Linked DNA regions of Homo sapiens. The protein of the gene in region 4 purifies or fractionates together with the protein of the main gene of each other region. This does not show direct contact. Each region holds a gene or a part of one and is shown on either strand. Other genes may lie near its edges.

Region 1 (3,952 bases), on a different chromosome or scaffold from region 4:
GAAGATAGGAAGATAGCTTGAGTCCAGGAGCTCGAGGCTGCAGTGAGCTATTATTATCTTGCCACTGCACTCTAGCCTGGGTGGCAGAGTGAGACAACCCCCTTCTTTTTTTTTTTTTTTTTTTTTTTTGAGACAGAGTCTTGCTCTATCACCCAGGCTGGAATGCAATGATGCAATCTTGGCTTACTGCAACTTCTACCTCCCAGGCTCAAGGGATCCTCCTGCCTCAGCCTCCCAAGTAGCTGGACTATAGACATGTATTACCATGCCCAGCTAATTTTTTTATTTTTTGTAGAGATGGTGTTTCACTATGTTGCTCAGGATGGCCTCAAACTCCTGGGCTCAAGCGATCCTCCTGCCTTAGCCTACCAAAGTGCTGGGATTACAGACATGAGCCACTGCACCCAGCCTGAGACACTTCTCTAAAAAAATACATAAATAAATAAAAGTTAAAATAATAAAAAATTTTAAAAGTTGTTTAAATAGGGCCGGGCGCGGTGGCTCATGCCTGTAATCCCAGCACTTTGGGAGGCCGAGACGGGTGGATCACAAGGTCAGGAGATCGAGACCATCCTGGCTAACACAGTGAAACCCCGTCTCTACTAAAAATACAAAAAAATAGCCGGGCGTGGTGGCGGGCGCCTGTAGTCCCAGCTACTCGGGAGGCTGAGGCAGGAGAATGGTGTGAATCCGGGAGGCAGAGCTTGCAGTGAGCTGAGATGGTGCCACTGCACTACAGCCTGGGTGACAGAATGAGACTCCGTCTCAAAAAAAAAAAAAAGTTGTTTAAATACATAAAATAATCAAAAGTGAGTATAGATGAAATAAGAGTGGCCATAAGTTCATAATTACTGAAGCTGGAGGAAGGTACTTGGGGGTTCATTACACCATTCTCTCTCCTGTTTCTGTTTGACTGTTTCCATAATACAATGTTAAGAAAGGATTAAACGTGTCACCCCCTCCTAGAAGCCCTCTCACATTCCTCAGTCTGAATTAGATCCCCCTTTCCGGGGCTTGCCAATACACCTGATGTGCTGACCGGCAATTCTGTTGTTTGCCCCTCCCTCTTGGGGGCAGGGGCTGCACTGGCAGGAGAGGTGTGGCTTCCACTTAAGGGTCCGGTATGCCTGCCTCCTCGGGCCAGCCCAGATCATACCCTGCTGGGCAAAGGAGGAAGAGCCAGAGGATCCAGACGCCTTGGAGGACTTGGAACACCTGTAACAGGACAAGGAGTTCTGCTCAGGCACGTGGCCACAGAAAACTACTTAGGAAGCCTGTGGTGAGAACAACAACAGTGCCTGAGAATCCCACGGCTCTGGGGAAGTGAGCCCCGAGGATGAGGCTGCTCGCCTGGCTGATTTTCCTGGCTAACTGGGGAGGTGCCAGGGCTGAACCAGGTACAGCACTGGGAATGTCTGCTATGCCTTTGTTTTGTACTGTGAACTCTGGGGCTGCGGGAAGCTGCTCGCAGCCAGCTTGAAGGTGCTTCTAAAGATAGCAAGGCAGGAGCTAGGCAGGGAGGCAGGTGGGGAGAGCTAGTGGGCCTTAGCAAGTGCTGTTTGAGGCTGAAGATTTTAAGTGGAGGCGCCAGCTGGCCAGGGAGGGACACCGACATTGCGAAGAGGTCTGGGTACGTGAGAGCTAGCTAATTAGTAGAGGTAGGAGGTGGCAGGAAAGATTCGTGGACTCATTCAACAAATGAGGTCCTTTCCTGTACCATACGTTATTCTAGGAGCCAGGGATATATCAGAGAAGAAAAGAAAGTCCCCGTCTCAATGAAGAATTCCTTCATCTGGGGAGAAAAAAACAAACCACACGAACAAGTAAAGTACGCAGCATTGGAGGAGATGATAAGTGTTATGGGGAAAATAAAGTAGAACAGGGAAGGCGGGTTGTGGGGAGGGGGTACTTACAAGACGTCCAGAGAAGAGCTGTCAAATCAGGTGACACTCAAGTGGAGCCTTGAGGCAGTGAGTGGGGGAGCCACATGGGTGTCCAGAACATTACAGGAAGAGAGGACAGTGCACGGGGTCTGAGGTGGACACACAGGAGATGTGCATGAGGAACAGCAAGGAAGCCCGCGTGGCTGAAGCAGGGTGGGCAGGACAAGTGGGGGTGAGGTTGGCAGATGGTGGGGTGGGGCAGGTGCCAAATCATGGATAGCCTCGAAGACTCTCTTGAGGACTCAGACATTTTTCTTTCCACGTGCCTGTAGATAGGAAGGACGCAGGCTTTTGCTCAGGGTGAAATGGGATGTCATTGGAGGGTTCTAGGCACAGGTGTAATCTATTCTGACTTCTGTATGTTTAAAAGGACCCTTGAGGCCAGACGCAGTGGCTAACATCTGTAATCCCAGCACTTTGGGAGGCTGAGGAGGGTGGATTGCTTGAGTCCAGGAGTTTGAGACCAGCCTGGGCAACATAGCAAAACCCTGACTCTACTAAAAATACCAAAAATTAGCTGGGTGTGGTAGTGGGTGCCTGTAGTGCCAGCTACTTGGGAGACTCAGCTGGGAGAATTACCTGAGCCTGGGAGGTTGAGGCTGCAGTGAGCTGTGATTGTGCCACTGCACCCCAGCCTGGGTGACGGGAATGAGACCATCTCAAAAAAAAAAAAGAAAATGAAAGAAAAAAATTCTCTTTATAGCCCCTCTGAAGTAGGTGCTAATATCATTATACCCATTTTGCAGATGAGGCAAATGAGTCTCAGAGGGGACATTGCACTTGCTGAAGATCTCCCAGCTGGGAAATGGCAGGACAAAGCCTGTGCCTGGCTGTACTATGCTTCATGTCCTCTTGGGATGGTGGGGTTTAGAGGTACTATTTTTTTCTCTTTTCTCCAAACTTGCTGGAATGTATTCCTTTTAAAGTAAATTTAAAAGGAATTCCGGGCCGGATGCGGTGGCTCACGCCTGTAATCCCAGCACTTTGGGAGGCCGAGGCGGGCGGATCACGAGGTCAGGAGATTGAGACAATCCTGGCTAATACGGTGAAACTAAAAATACTCTACTAAAAGTACAAAAAATTAGCCAGGCGTGGTGATGAGCACCTGTCGTCCCAGCTACTTGGGAGGCTGAAGCAGGAGAATGGGGTAAACCCGGGAGGTGGAGCTTGCAGTGAGCCGAGATTGCACCACTGCACTCCAGCCTGGGCGACAGAGTGAGGCTCCGTCTCAAAAAACAAACAAACAAACAAACAACAACAAAAAAAGGAATTCCGCAGCACCTGTAAGGTTTTTCCAACTCCAGGTGTCTTCCTGAAGCACAGGTGGATTCTGAGACAGGGGATCAGACAGCATCATCCCTGCTTTGCATTAAACTGTGGGATTTCTGCCTCCACTTTCCTTAGCCAGGAGCTTGGGTGGATGCCAACTTGCTGGCTCCTTCTCCTCCTACACATGTCCTGTGTAACATTTCGCTCCTTCCTCAGCTTCTAACTGCAGAGAAGCAGACAGGTTCTTCCCCTGTGGGTTAGCTTGGTAGGAAAACACTCCCTGGAAGGCCAGCCCAGGGCTGAGGGAGCAGGACCAGGGCAGGAATGGTAACACCTACCTCTGGAGCTATTGTGAACAGAGGGTATTCACTGTAGGTGGTCCGTAAATGTAGGTTTTAACAAATGAACTCCATGGGTTTTGGAGGGCCTCCATTTACAAAGGATGAATTACAATTGTGTTTTGGGGCTAATGCTAGCCTTAATAGCAAAGGACTGAAATAGAGACTGAGACCATTGTGTGGTGTGGGTTATAGGCAATAACAGACAAAAGCCACTGAATCACAGGAGTCAGACTAGGAGGGCCTTCAGGGAACCTCTGTTCAGTACTTTCATCTTATACTTGAGGAAACGGAGGCTGAGGGGCAGTGTGGCCCAGGGAATGAGTCCTAAGGCTGCCTTGCTCACCCCACAGCCAGGTGCTCTGTATAAGAGAACTCTTTTACCTGCACAACTGAGGCAGG
Region 2 (3,500 bases), on a different chromosome or scaffold from region 4:
CCATTGATGAAGAGGGTCCGCTTCACCTGGGTGACAGGGGAGTGGGTTTGCCTTCTGAGGCTTGACCCCAGTGGAGCCAGGGGATGTGAGGGGTGGGGGGCACTAGAGAAAGAGGCTTTGTTTTGAGTGGGTAGAGAAGTAGGTGAGCAGAGGGGAACAGATGGGGTGGGAGGAGGCCTTAGTTATGGATAAGCCAGGTCCCAGGGAAAGCAGGGGAGTGTTTCCAACAGAAATCAGGCAGTGAGCCTAACAAAAGAGCCACGCCGTCCCATGCTCTTGAGGGGTTATAGAGGCAGAAGGGGGTACTACTTTCAGCTCCTTAGACCCTGAGAACCCAGCACAGTGGCTGGCATGGAGTAGGTGTCCGGTTCTGGCTTGGTGAGTGCATGTAGAAGGGGAAGGAATATTACTATCCTAGGATCAGCCACTGCTATTTTCCCAAGTGCTGGGCACAGCACGGCTGTTTCTGTGTATTCCCCACAACCTTGGGGGAGGTACTGTTGTTATTCCATTTTACAGATGAGAAAATCATGGCTTGGGAGGTTATGTAACTTGCAGGATGGGAGCTCCTGAGCTGCTGTGCCAGCATTCAAACCTAGCTGACACCTCTTGGGGCTGAGACAAAAGAGGCCTGCAGGGAAGGGAAGGGAAGAGGCTGGGGATGGGGCAGGACCTGGGCTCTGCTCCACGCACCAGATCATCCTCCTTGTAGCGCATCTTGGAGGTGTGTCTACGCATGCTGTAGACGGTGAGCAGCAGATACAGGAAGGCGAAGGAGGTGTGCAGCCATAGCAGGTTGTTCCTGGGAGAAGCAGAGAGGATACATGGGAGCCACTGGGGCTAGGACACACTCAGAGGAGACACCTCAGCCTGTCAGTGTTAAACCCTTGATACAGACAGGGCCCTCTACTGCCACCAGCCTTCTGGCACTGACTCCTCGCAAGGCAGGCCCACATCCCACATCCCCTAGACACCAAAATTCTTCGATTCCAATGAAAATATCCCTGATAGGTCACCTTTCTACGCCCTACCCACTGGTTACAGTGTCTCCAACTGCCCCAGCTGGCCCTCCCTGGTTCCTGAGATTTCACCCTCCTCTTCTGTATCCTCTTCATCCTTGGGGGATCCTCAGCAGGCATTTCCCTCTTCTGTCTCCAACCCAAGCCCTCAGGGACCCATAGCCATCCCTGTAGGCTCTGCTCCCATCAACGCAGCTGCCTTTCCTCCCTGTCCCACATCATGGCCCAGACTCTGGTCGTAGACCTTGGCCTGGCCGACCAGCTTCGCATCTTACCCTGATTTCAAGTTGGCAATGGTGGTTCTCCCAAAGCTGTAGGCATTGTTCTCTGTGGGGTGGGAAGAGGGAGAGGATGATGGTGGGGTCAGGGCACATCCCCTCCAGCCCCATCCTCTCTCCACCCTAGCCGTCCTGGCCCTCACTGACCCAGCAGGTCCCCTGAGAAGTTGACAGGCAGCACGATGCCTACGGAGAGGACGCCCACAACCACCAGCAGCCCGATGATGTGCCGCTGAAAGGACAGGTAGTGCACGGCATCGCCCCCACATTTGTCCCGGATCTCATCATCCCTGCAGCCATACGGGTTGGACAAAGGAATTAGGTTAGGACCAGGGCAAGAAGGGGGCTGCAACTTGCCTGCCCTCACCCACTCCCACCCCAAACCCACCCTAGCTCCAGCTGATCTGGCAGTAGTATAGGGCTGAAATGGGACTTCTTGGTCCCCTATTTTCTGTGAAGGGAGAGGGGAGAAAGGGAGAAGAGAGGGGGAGGGAGAAAAAGGAGAAATGCATGGAGAAGGGGAGGGATGAAGGCAGAGGGCTAGAAGGAAAAGATAGGTAAAAGAAAGAAGAGACTGCAGAGACAGGAAGGGGAAGAAGAAAAATGAGGAATGCAGAGAAAAGGGAAGAAAAAAGAGAAATATCTGAGGAGGGAGGAAGGCAAGAGAGGAGGAGGACCAGCAGGAGGAGGAGTGGTGAAAGAGGCAGAAGTGAAGGAAGGATGGGAGGAGGGGCAGCAGCACCTCATGGGTGTGGCTGAGCCTGGCGTAGTGAAGCCCGGGTACCCTTGGGGGAGGCCTGGGGGAGTGGTGGCGGCAGTGCTGACCTGTCCTGGCTTCCTGCCTTTCTCAGCGCTCACTGCCTGCCTGCTGGACTCTGGCTGGATCTCCTGAGTTCTGCCTGCAGCTGGCTGGCTGCTCCCAGCCTACTGCTGCCCCCACTCACTGGCTGCACAGAGGTTGAGGCAGGGGCTCCACCCCCTCCCTCAAGGTGGGGCAGGGCAGGGAGAGAAGCGGGGGGGCCGGCAGGGGGTCACAGAGGAGATTATGGGGTCAAGTGAGTGTTCAGGGTACAGCAGAGGCTCAGGCACCCGAGGCTTGGCCTTTGAGAGCAGGGAGGAGGGTGCTGTGCTGGCGAGGAGTGCTAAGGCCCTGAAAGCTGCTGGCTTCTGAATTTTGTAGGGAGATGCCAGGTTCTGAAGTTTCTCTCTTTCTTTAGAGCTTGAAGATGGTCCACTTACTTTATCCTGAAGATGGCTGTCAGCCAGGAACAGAAACCCTGGGGGAACAGAGGGCTGTCAGCGGGAGTCCCCAGCCCACCAACCCGAACCTCTCTCCTCCCTCAAGTCCCACCCATTCTCATAATTACCTCCAGGCATAGCTTCCACACCCCTCACTAAAAAAAAATCCTTATACCCTCAGAACTAGCTTATACCCAAAAAGGGAGAGAGAGAGGGAAGGTCTCAGCCCTCAAAGAAAAAAGACCAACACTAAACAGGTTTATCTGTGAATCCCCATGTCCAGATCTACAGATTTCTGCAAATACCCTGTGGCTGTGTGGGCCAGGGTGGGATGGGTGGGGCTTGGGGTTCTAAGGTTAGCAGGACCTCCAGACCTCCGGCTAATAAGTTTGCAACATGGCTGCCAAAAGCAGAGAAGAGGGCCTTGCTGCCTGAATTCCAGCTATTTATCCTCTAGTCTACCCCAGAAGGACAAAAGCCCAGGGTCACTATGAGCTGCAAGGTATCTCCCCACCTCCGGCCAGGTGCGGTGGCTCACGCCTGTAATCCCAGCACTTTTGGAGGCCAAGGCGGGCGGATCAACTGAGGTCAGGAGTTCGAGATCAGCCTGGCCAACATGGTGACACCCCGTCTCTTACTAAAAATACAAAAATTAGCTGGGTGTGGTGGTGCGCGCCTGTAATCCCAGTTACTTGGGAGGCTGAGACTGGAAAATTGCTTGAACCCAGGAGGCGGAGGTTGCAGTGAGCTGAGATCACACCACTGCACCCTAGCCTGGGCGACAGAGCAAGACTCTGTCTCAGGGAAAAATTAAAAAAAAAAAAAAATCTCTCCCCTCCACCCTCCAGGCATGTAAAGGCAGAGAATGGGGATATTCAGGGGAGGGCTGCGCAGAGGGCACCCTGCCCCAAACTCCATCCAGCAGAAGGTCCAGACATAACACAGGATGGGGTAGAAAGGTGCC
Region 3 (3,500 bases), on a different chromosome or scaffold from region 4:
GAGTGAGACTCCATCTCGAAAAAACAAAAAAGATATAATTTATATCTTACAGAATGGTCTGTTTAGAGCCACACGATTAGGGCACACACTATTTCACCTTCGTAGACAGTATTTACCCAAACTCAACCGAGAGCACAGGAATGGAGACACAGAGCCCTCGAGAGAGGGACTTACAGTCGAGGCCAGCATGGAGCCTCCGAACCACACGGCGTAGCGCTGCATGTGATGCGTGACCACCTGGACCTCCACAGGCTTCGGCTGGAAGAGAAAGCAGCTCTCACTTACCCCACACCCACAGACACATGTGATCTAATCATCCCCCGGCTGACGAGACCACAGCTGCACCCAGGGCCGCCCTCCTCTTATGGCACGAGCACCACCTCACACCCAGCACTCAGTGACTCTCCGCCCCTGCTGCCAAATCCCCCTAAGACCTACCAGAATCCCAGCCCCCAGCGCTCAAAGGAACACAGTGCACCCGGCAAGCAGCACCTCCCTCTCACAAGGCTCAAAGCGCTAAAGTTCAAAAGCACAAAATCCAAGCAATTAACCCCACTGCTTTTTTTTTTTTAACCTAACATATCAGATGTTCTGGCACTGTAGAGATCATCCCAAATAAGATTAACCATCCTCAAAATAATAAAAGAAACTGTGCTTTTCTGGCCGGGCGTGGTAGCTCGCACCTGTAATCCCAGCACTTTGGGAGGCCGAGGCGCATGGATCACAAGGTCAGGAGATCGAGACCATCCTGGCTAACACGGTGAAACCCCATCTCTACTAAAAATACAAAAAATTAGCCGGGCTTGGTGGCGGGCACCTGTAGTCCCAGCTACTCAATAGGCTGAGGCAGGAGAATGGTGTGAACCCAGGAGGCAGAGCTTGCTATGAGCCGAGATCTCACCACTGCACTCCAGCCTGGGCGACAGAGAGAGACTCTGTCTCAAGAAAAAAGAAAAAAAAGAAAAGAAACTGTGCTCTTCCAACAGTGGACTCGTGGGATCTCTTCCTTGCGCCCACTGCCCCTATCGAAGCCCACTCTTGGTTAGAAGCCCACAGTGATCACCAGCTACTTAAGAATTACTATCTTGGAGGAACGCCTTGTAACTCCCTGCTAACATTAGTTATTTTCATTTAATGAGAACATTTCCGAAGGACATGAAAGATCCTCACCATAAATTAGTCCCATCTCCTTGGGACACTGGTCATTATACCCCATGCCTGATCTCTTACGACACAAAAGGAAACTGCTGGCAGGCATGGCCAGGGAGAGTGTGAAGCTGCCGTTGCTGTGTCACCAGGACCATCAGTCTGAACTACCAGCCTGGAAGGACCTCAGGCAGCAAACCTCCATGGTCATGTCACAATGCAGCTCAGAAAGCGATGAACACTTGTTTTTATTTTACGCGGCCCAGACAAGCTCCTTCGGCTCTGTGTCAGGAGGGCCCCGGTCAGGCCTGGGGCAATAGCCCCAGGCACTGCGTGGAGGCCTCTGGCTCCTACCTTGATCCTCCCGCCGCTGAGCTCCTCGCTGAGCCTCAGCCTAGCATCCACCACTCTCTTCAAATCCCTCTGCAGTCGGCGTCCGAAATCCCTGAACATGGTGGAGCCTCCTGAGAGTACGACATTCTACAAGACACAAAGCAGAGGGAGCCCTGGGTAAAACCGCCCGCCCACAGTTCCGGGAACCACCCACAACAGAACTCCCACAGGTCCAATCGCTTGTGGGCACGACACATCGGCCCTATGAAAGATGCGAACAAAAGCAAACTTAATGCTATTGGAAAAGTGTAGATTTTTTTTTTATGGAGACAACAATGTGCCACAGATGGCTCCTTAATCCTTTCCTCAATTACAGCAAAGCAAAAACAAGGCGATCCTGCTCCCTCATGCTCCCCCTGCCAACCCCTCACATAGACCAGGAAGCCAAAACAAACAACAGAAACTGTCCAGCTGACTTGAGCCAAAATAACACCAGCTCTCCCCTGGTCCGCCTTAACCATCACTGGGGGAAAGTCTTCTAATGGGTGCTTGAAGCTTCTCAGAAGGACAATCTTGGGAAGAAAGCATCCAAGTTACCGGAAGGAACATTCTCAGATGAGCCACCCAGCCAGCACTGCCCTCCAGGGCCAAGACTCGCTCGGTGGCCACCCCAGAAGCTCGGTGGGGGGCTGAGGAAGGGGAAGCACTCGCCTGTCCCGCTCCGCCTGCCCAGAACCCGAACCAGCCCTCTGTCCAGCATCTCCGCGTTGTCAACCCTGCCCACCTGTCAGTCATCCATACCGTCAGCTCCTGACCTGCAGCCACTGACATCCTCATGGTTTGACGGCCCAGGTCACCCGAGCAGCTGGTCCTCTTCTGATGTATGTCAGAGGCCACAGTGGCCTCACCTACGTCACTCACCTCTCGCCCTCTCACCATGGGGCACTGCATCATCTCACACCCTCACAAGATGAGGAAGGGTGAGTATGGTACAGAAAGGTATTTTTAGACAGACAGAGAGAGACCACATTTATATAACTTTTCCTACAGTATATTGTTACAATAATTATTCTACTTTAGTAGTTACTGCTGTTCAGAAGTCTCTTACTGTGCCTAATTTCTAAATTAAACTTTATCATAGGTATGTATGTACAAGAAAAAACACAGTATATATAGGATTCGGTACTATTTGCAGTTTCAGGCACCCACTGGAGGTCTTGAATCATATCCTCACTGACAAGGGGGACTAGTGTATCTCCTGATTGAACTTTCTTAGAGAAAACACCTTATGTGAAAACTACATAAGGAAATTAATCCTTCAAGGAGTCAAAAAGCCCTATTTCCTTTAAGACCCTCTAAATATGTTAGCTCTTCCCGAGTTCCTGAGCAACTACAGAGCTCTCTGCTTTCAGGCACTCCTCCCAGTCAGCTCTGAGTGTGTGAACAGTGAGTCCCTCAACAAGTTTACAGGTAAGCAGAAGTCACAGGGAATCAGCACGGAAAAAAAAATGCACTTTTCTGTCCCTAGCAACCCAGGTTCTAAGTTATATGATATGAGAGTAGTCTGTTCCTGCTTACTGCTGTTCTGGGGAAAGACAGCCAGGACTGACTACAAAGGGATCATTTTTCTCTCATGCCAGCTCCTAGAACTGCTGTGACAGCACCCACGTGGACTCAGGATTAGAGATGGTGAAGTCAGAGCAGGAAGAATGAAACGGGGCAGAAGCCACAGGAAGCCACCAGTGATCCGGCCTTCCATTTGGGGAAGCCACAGTGATCTGGCCTTCTACCTGGAGAAGTGACCAGTGATCTGGCCTTCTACCTGGAGAAGCCACCAGTGATCTGGCCTCCTACCTGGAGAAGCCACCAGTGATCTGAACTTCTACCTGGAGAAGCCACCAGTGATCTGGCCTTCCACCTGGAGAAGCTGGCCTTCCACCTGGAGAAGTGACCAGTGATCTGGCCTTCTACCTGGAGAAGCCACCAGTGATCTGAACTTCTACCTGGAGAAGCCACCAGTG
Region 4 (3,500 bases):
CTGAATCAGTGTGGGCCTAAAAGAGTACCTGGGTCAGATTAGCCGGCGTGGTGGCATGTGCCTGTAATTCCAGCTACTCGGGAGGCTGAGGCAGGAGAACTGCTTGAACCTGGAAGGCGGAGGTTGCACTGAGCCAAGGTTGCACCACTGCACTCCAGCCTGGGAGACAGAGTGAGATTCTGTCTCAAAAAAAAAAAAAAAAAAAAAAAAAAGAGTACCTGGGTCAGGTCTACAAACATATGCTGAATGCTTATGATGTGCCATGGACTGTGCTGGGAATTTGGAGATGAAGACATCAAACTAGCCTTAGAAAGGGCAGGTGGGAGGCTGGGCGTGGTGGCTCATGCCTGTAATCCCAGCATTTTGGGAGGCTGAGGCAGGTGGATCACTTGAGGCCAGGAGTTGGAGACCAGCCTGGCCAACATGGTGAAATCCCGATCCTACTAAAAATACAAAATTGGCCAGGTGCGGTGGCTCACACCTGTAATCCCAGCACTTTGGGAGGCCGAGGCGGGCGGATCATCTGAGGTCAGGAGTTCAAGACCAAACTGGCCAACATGGTGAAAACCCATCTCTACTAAAAATACAAAAAATTAGCTGGGCGTGGTGGCAGGCTCCTGTAATCCCAGCTACTCCGGAGGCTGAGGCAGGAGAATTGCTTGATCCCGGGAGGTGGAGGTTGCAGTGAGCCAAGATTGAGCCATTGCACTCCAGCCTGAGCAATAAAAGCAAAACACTGTCTCAAAACAAACAAACAAACAAAAAACAAAAATACAAAATTAGCAAGACTTGGTGGCGTGTGCCTGTAATCTCAGCTACTCAGGAGGCTGAGGCACGAGAATTGCTTGAACCCAGGAGGCAGAGGTTGCAATGAGCTGCAATCACACCACTGTGCTCCAGCTTGGGCAAGAGTGAGACTCTGTCTCAAAAAAAAAAAAAGACTTGTGGGAAAGATAAATACATCAATACTTAATCACACTGCAACGTGATATGACCAAATAAATCCACACCAAAGGAACATCATATTTAGAGGTACAAAGTACCATGGGTACAACATCCAGCTCAGAATTGTTGGAGCAGAGGATGGAGAAGGAGAGGGTAGAAGTGATGGATGGGGATGAAAAGCAGGTAGGGCTCAATCTTGGAAATCTTTATAGGCAATGCTAGAAAAGCCTGAACTTTATCTTTTAGGCCATGATTAACCACCAAAAATTTTCAAGCAGGCGAGGAATAGTTAAATGTCTGTCAATCATAATTCACTGCAGCCTCAAACTCTTGAGCTCAAGCAATCCTCCCACTTTGGCCTTCTAAGTAGCTGGGACTTCAGGTGTGTGCCATTACACCTAACTAATTTTTATTGTTTTTTTTTCTAGAGACAGAATCTTGCTCTATTGCCCAGGCTGGTCTTGAATTCCTGGCCTCAAGCAATCCTCCCACCTTGGTCTCCCAAAACACTGGAATTACAGTGAGACACTGTGCCCAGCTGTTAGATGTCTTTTTTTTTTTTTTGAGATGGAGTCTCGCTCTGTCCCGCAGGCTGGAGTGCAGTGGTGCGATCTCAGCTCACTGCAAGCTCCGCCTCCTGGGTTCACGCCATTCTCCTGCCTCAGCATCCCAAGTAGCTGGGACTACAGGCACCCGCCACCACGCCTGGCTAATTTTTTTGTATTTTTAGTAGAGACGGGATTTTACTGTGTTAGCCAGGATGGTCTCGATCTCCTGACCTCATGATTCGCCCGCCTCGACCTCCCAAAGTGCTGGGATTATAGGCATGAGCCACTGCACCCGGCCGATGTCTTTTTAAACACAGCAGTACGGAGGATGGATGTGATAGACAGTAGACTCCAGGCAAGGAATCCTAAAAGGAGTGTCTTGAGACAGTCCAGGTAAGAAAGAACAAAAGCCAGACTAAAGCAAGTCAGTGAAGGTGGAAAGGGAAGAACAGTTTCAAGGAGTATATAGGAGGTCAAATAAGCAGATCTTGTTTGATGGTATGTATGCAGCAAGAGCACAAGGAACAATAATGAATGCCTTGGGAATAGAGATGTTGAGTTTCAGGTTCATATGAGAGATGTGGGTGGAGATATCCACTAATCTGTCTAGAGCTTTTAAGAGAGGCTGGGCTAGAGGTCTGAAAGTCACAGGTGTAATAAATGTAGCAAACTATGACAGTGAAGTTGCCCAGAGAGAACTATGCAAGTGAGGACAGGGGAGATGCAACAACTGGAGAAGAAAAGTGGGGTGACTAGGAGAAGGAGGTTCAAGGAGAGAGTTGTTTTTTGTCTTTTTTTTTTCTTTTTTGAGACGGAGTTTCGCTCTTGTCACCTAGGCTGGAGTACAATGGCACACTCTCCGACTCCCGGGTTCAAGCGATTCTCCTGCCTCAGCCTCCCAAGTAGCTGGGATTACAGGCACGCACCACTACGCTCGGCTAATTTTTGTATTTTTAGTACAGATGGGGTTTCACCACGTTGGCCAGGCTGGTCTCGAACTCCTGACCTCAGGTGATTCACCCACCTCGGCCTCCCAAAGTGTTGGGATTACAGGGATGAGCCACCATGCCTGGCTTTTTTTTTTTTTTTTTTTTTTTGAGACGGCATCTCGCTCTATTTCCCAGGCTGGAGTGCAGTGGCGAGATCTCGGCTCACTGCAACCCCCCTCCCGGGTTCAAGTGATTCTCCTGCCTCACCCTCCCGAATAACTGGGATTACAGGTATGTGCCACCATGTCCGGCTAATTTTTGTATTTTTAGTCGAGACGGGGTTTTACCCTGTTGGCCAGGCTGGTCTCTAACTCCTGACCTCAAGTGATCTGCCTGCCTTGGCCTCCCAAAGTGCTGGGATTATAGGCGTGAGCCACTGCGCCCTGCTGGAAAGAGTTTTTATACGTTACTGTTATCAAACGCAGTAGAGGAGTAAAGTGAATTAAGAAAAGAAAGAGAGGCTGGGCACAGTGGCTCACGCCTGTAATCCCAGCACTTTGGGAAGCTGAGGTGGGCAGATCATTTGAGGTCAGGAGTTCGAGACCAGCCTGACCAACATGGTAAAACCCCATCTCTACTAAAAATACAAAAAAATTAGTTGGGCGTGGTGGCGCATGCCTGTAGTCCCAGCTACTCATGAGGCTGAGGCAGGAGAATTGCTTCAACCTGGTAGTCGGAGGTTGCAGTGAGCCAAGATCGCACCACTGCACTCCAGTCTGGGTGACAGAGCTAGACTCTGTCTCAAAAAAAAAAAAAAAAAAAGAAAAAGAAAAAGAAAGAGAGCCTGTAATCCCATCACTTTGGGAGGCCAAGGCAGGCGGATCACTTGAGATCAGGCATTCGAGACCAGCCTGGCCAACATGGCAAAACCCTGTCTCTACTAAAAATACAAAAATTAGCCAGACATGGTCGTGGGCACCTGTAATTCCAGCTACTTGGGAGGCTGAGGCAGGAGAATTGCTTGAACACGGGAGGTGGAGGTTACAGTGAGCCAAGATCACATCACTGCACTTCAGCC

Evidence for each region. The genes of interacting proteins can lie anywhere in the genome.
Region 1: the proteins of TUBD1 (region 4) and SMPDL3B purify together in Homo sapiens (affinity purification with mass spectrometry; one large-scale study listed by BioGRID and IntAct). This does not show direct contact.
Region 2: the proteins of TUBD1 (region 4) and TMEM63B purify together in Homo sapiens (affinity purification with mass spectrometry; one large-scale study listed by BioGRID and IntAct). This does not show direct contact.
Region 3: the proteins of TUBD1 (region 4) and ACTR3B purify together in Homo sapiens (affinity purification with mass spectrometry; one large-scale study listed by BioGRID and IntAct). This does not show direct contact.

What each region holds. Positions count from the first base shown.
Region 1 is NC_000001.11:27,933,848-27,937,799, forward strand, and holds the start of SMPDL3B (acid sphingomyelinase-like phosphodiesterase 3b isoform 1 precursor), read left to right. Parts: upstream 1-1,152; 5' UTR 1,153-1,336; coding exon 1,337-1,397; intron 1,398-3,952. UniProt on the Homo sapiens protein: Lipid-modulating phosphodiesterase. Active on the surface of macrophages and dendritic cells and strongly influences macrophage lipid composition and membrane fluidity. Acts as a negative regulator of Toll-like receptor signaling.
Region 2 is NC_000006.12:44,137,554-44,141,053, reverse strand, and holds part of TMEM63B (mechanosensitive cation channel TMEM63B), read right to left. Parts: intron 2,575-3,500; coding exon 2,537-2,574; intron 1,588-2,536; coding exon 1,445-1,587; intron 1,347-1,444; coding exon 1,295-1,346; intron 803-1,294; coding exon 694-802; intron 27-693; coding exon 1-26. UniProt on the Homo sapiens protein: Mechanosensitive cation channel with low conductance and high activation threshold. Osmosensitive cation channel preferentially activated by hypotonic stress.
Region 3 is NC_000007.14:152,850,252-152,853,751, reverse strand, and holds part of ACTR3B (actin-related protein 3B), read right to left. Parts: intron 1,627-3,500; coding exon 1,501-1,626; intron 259-1,500; coding exon 175-258; intron 1-174. UniProt on the Homo sapiens protein: Plays a role in the organization of the actin cytoskeleton.
Region 4 is NC_000017.11:59,886,444-59,889,943, forward strand, and holds part of TUBD1 (tubulin delta chain), read right to left. Parts: intron 1-3,500. UniProt on the Homo sapiens protein: Acts as a positive regulator of hedgehog signaling and regulates ciliary function.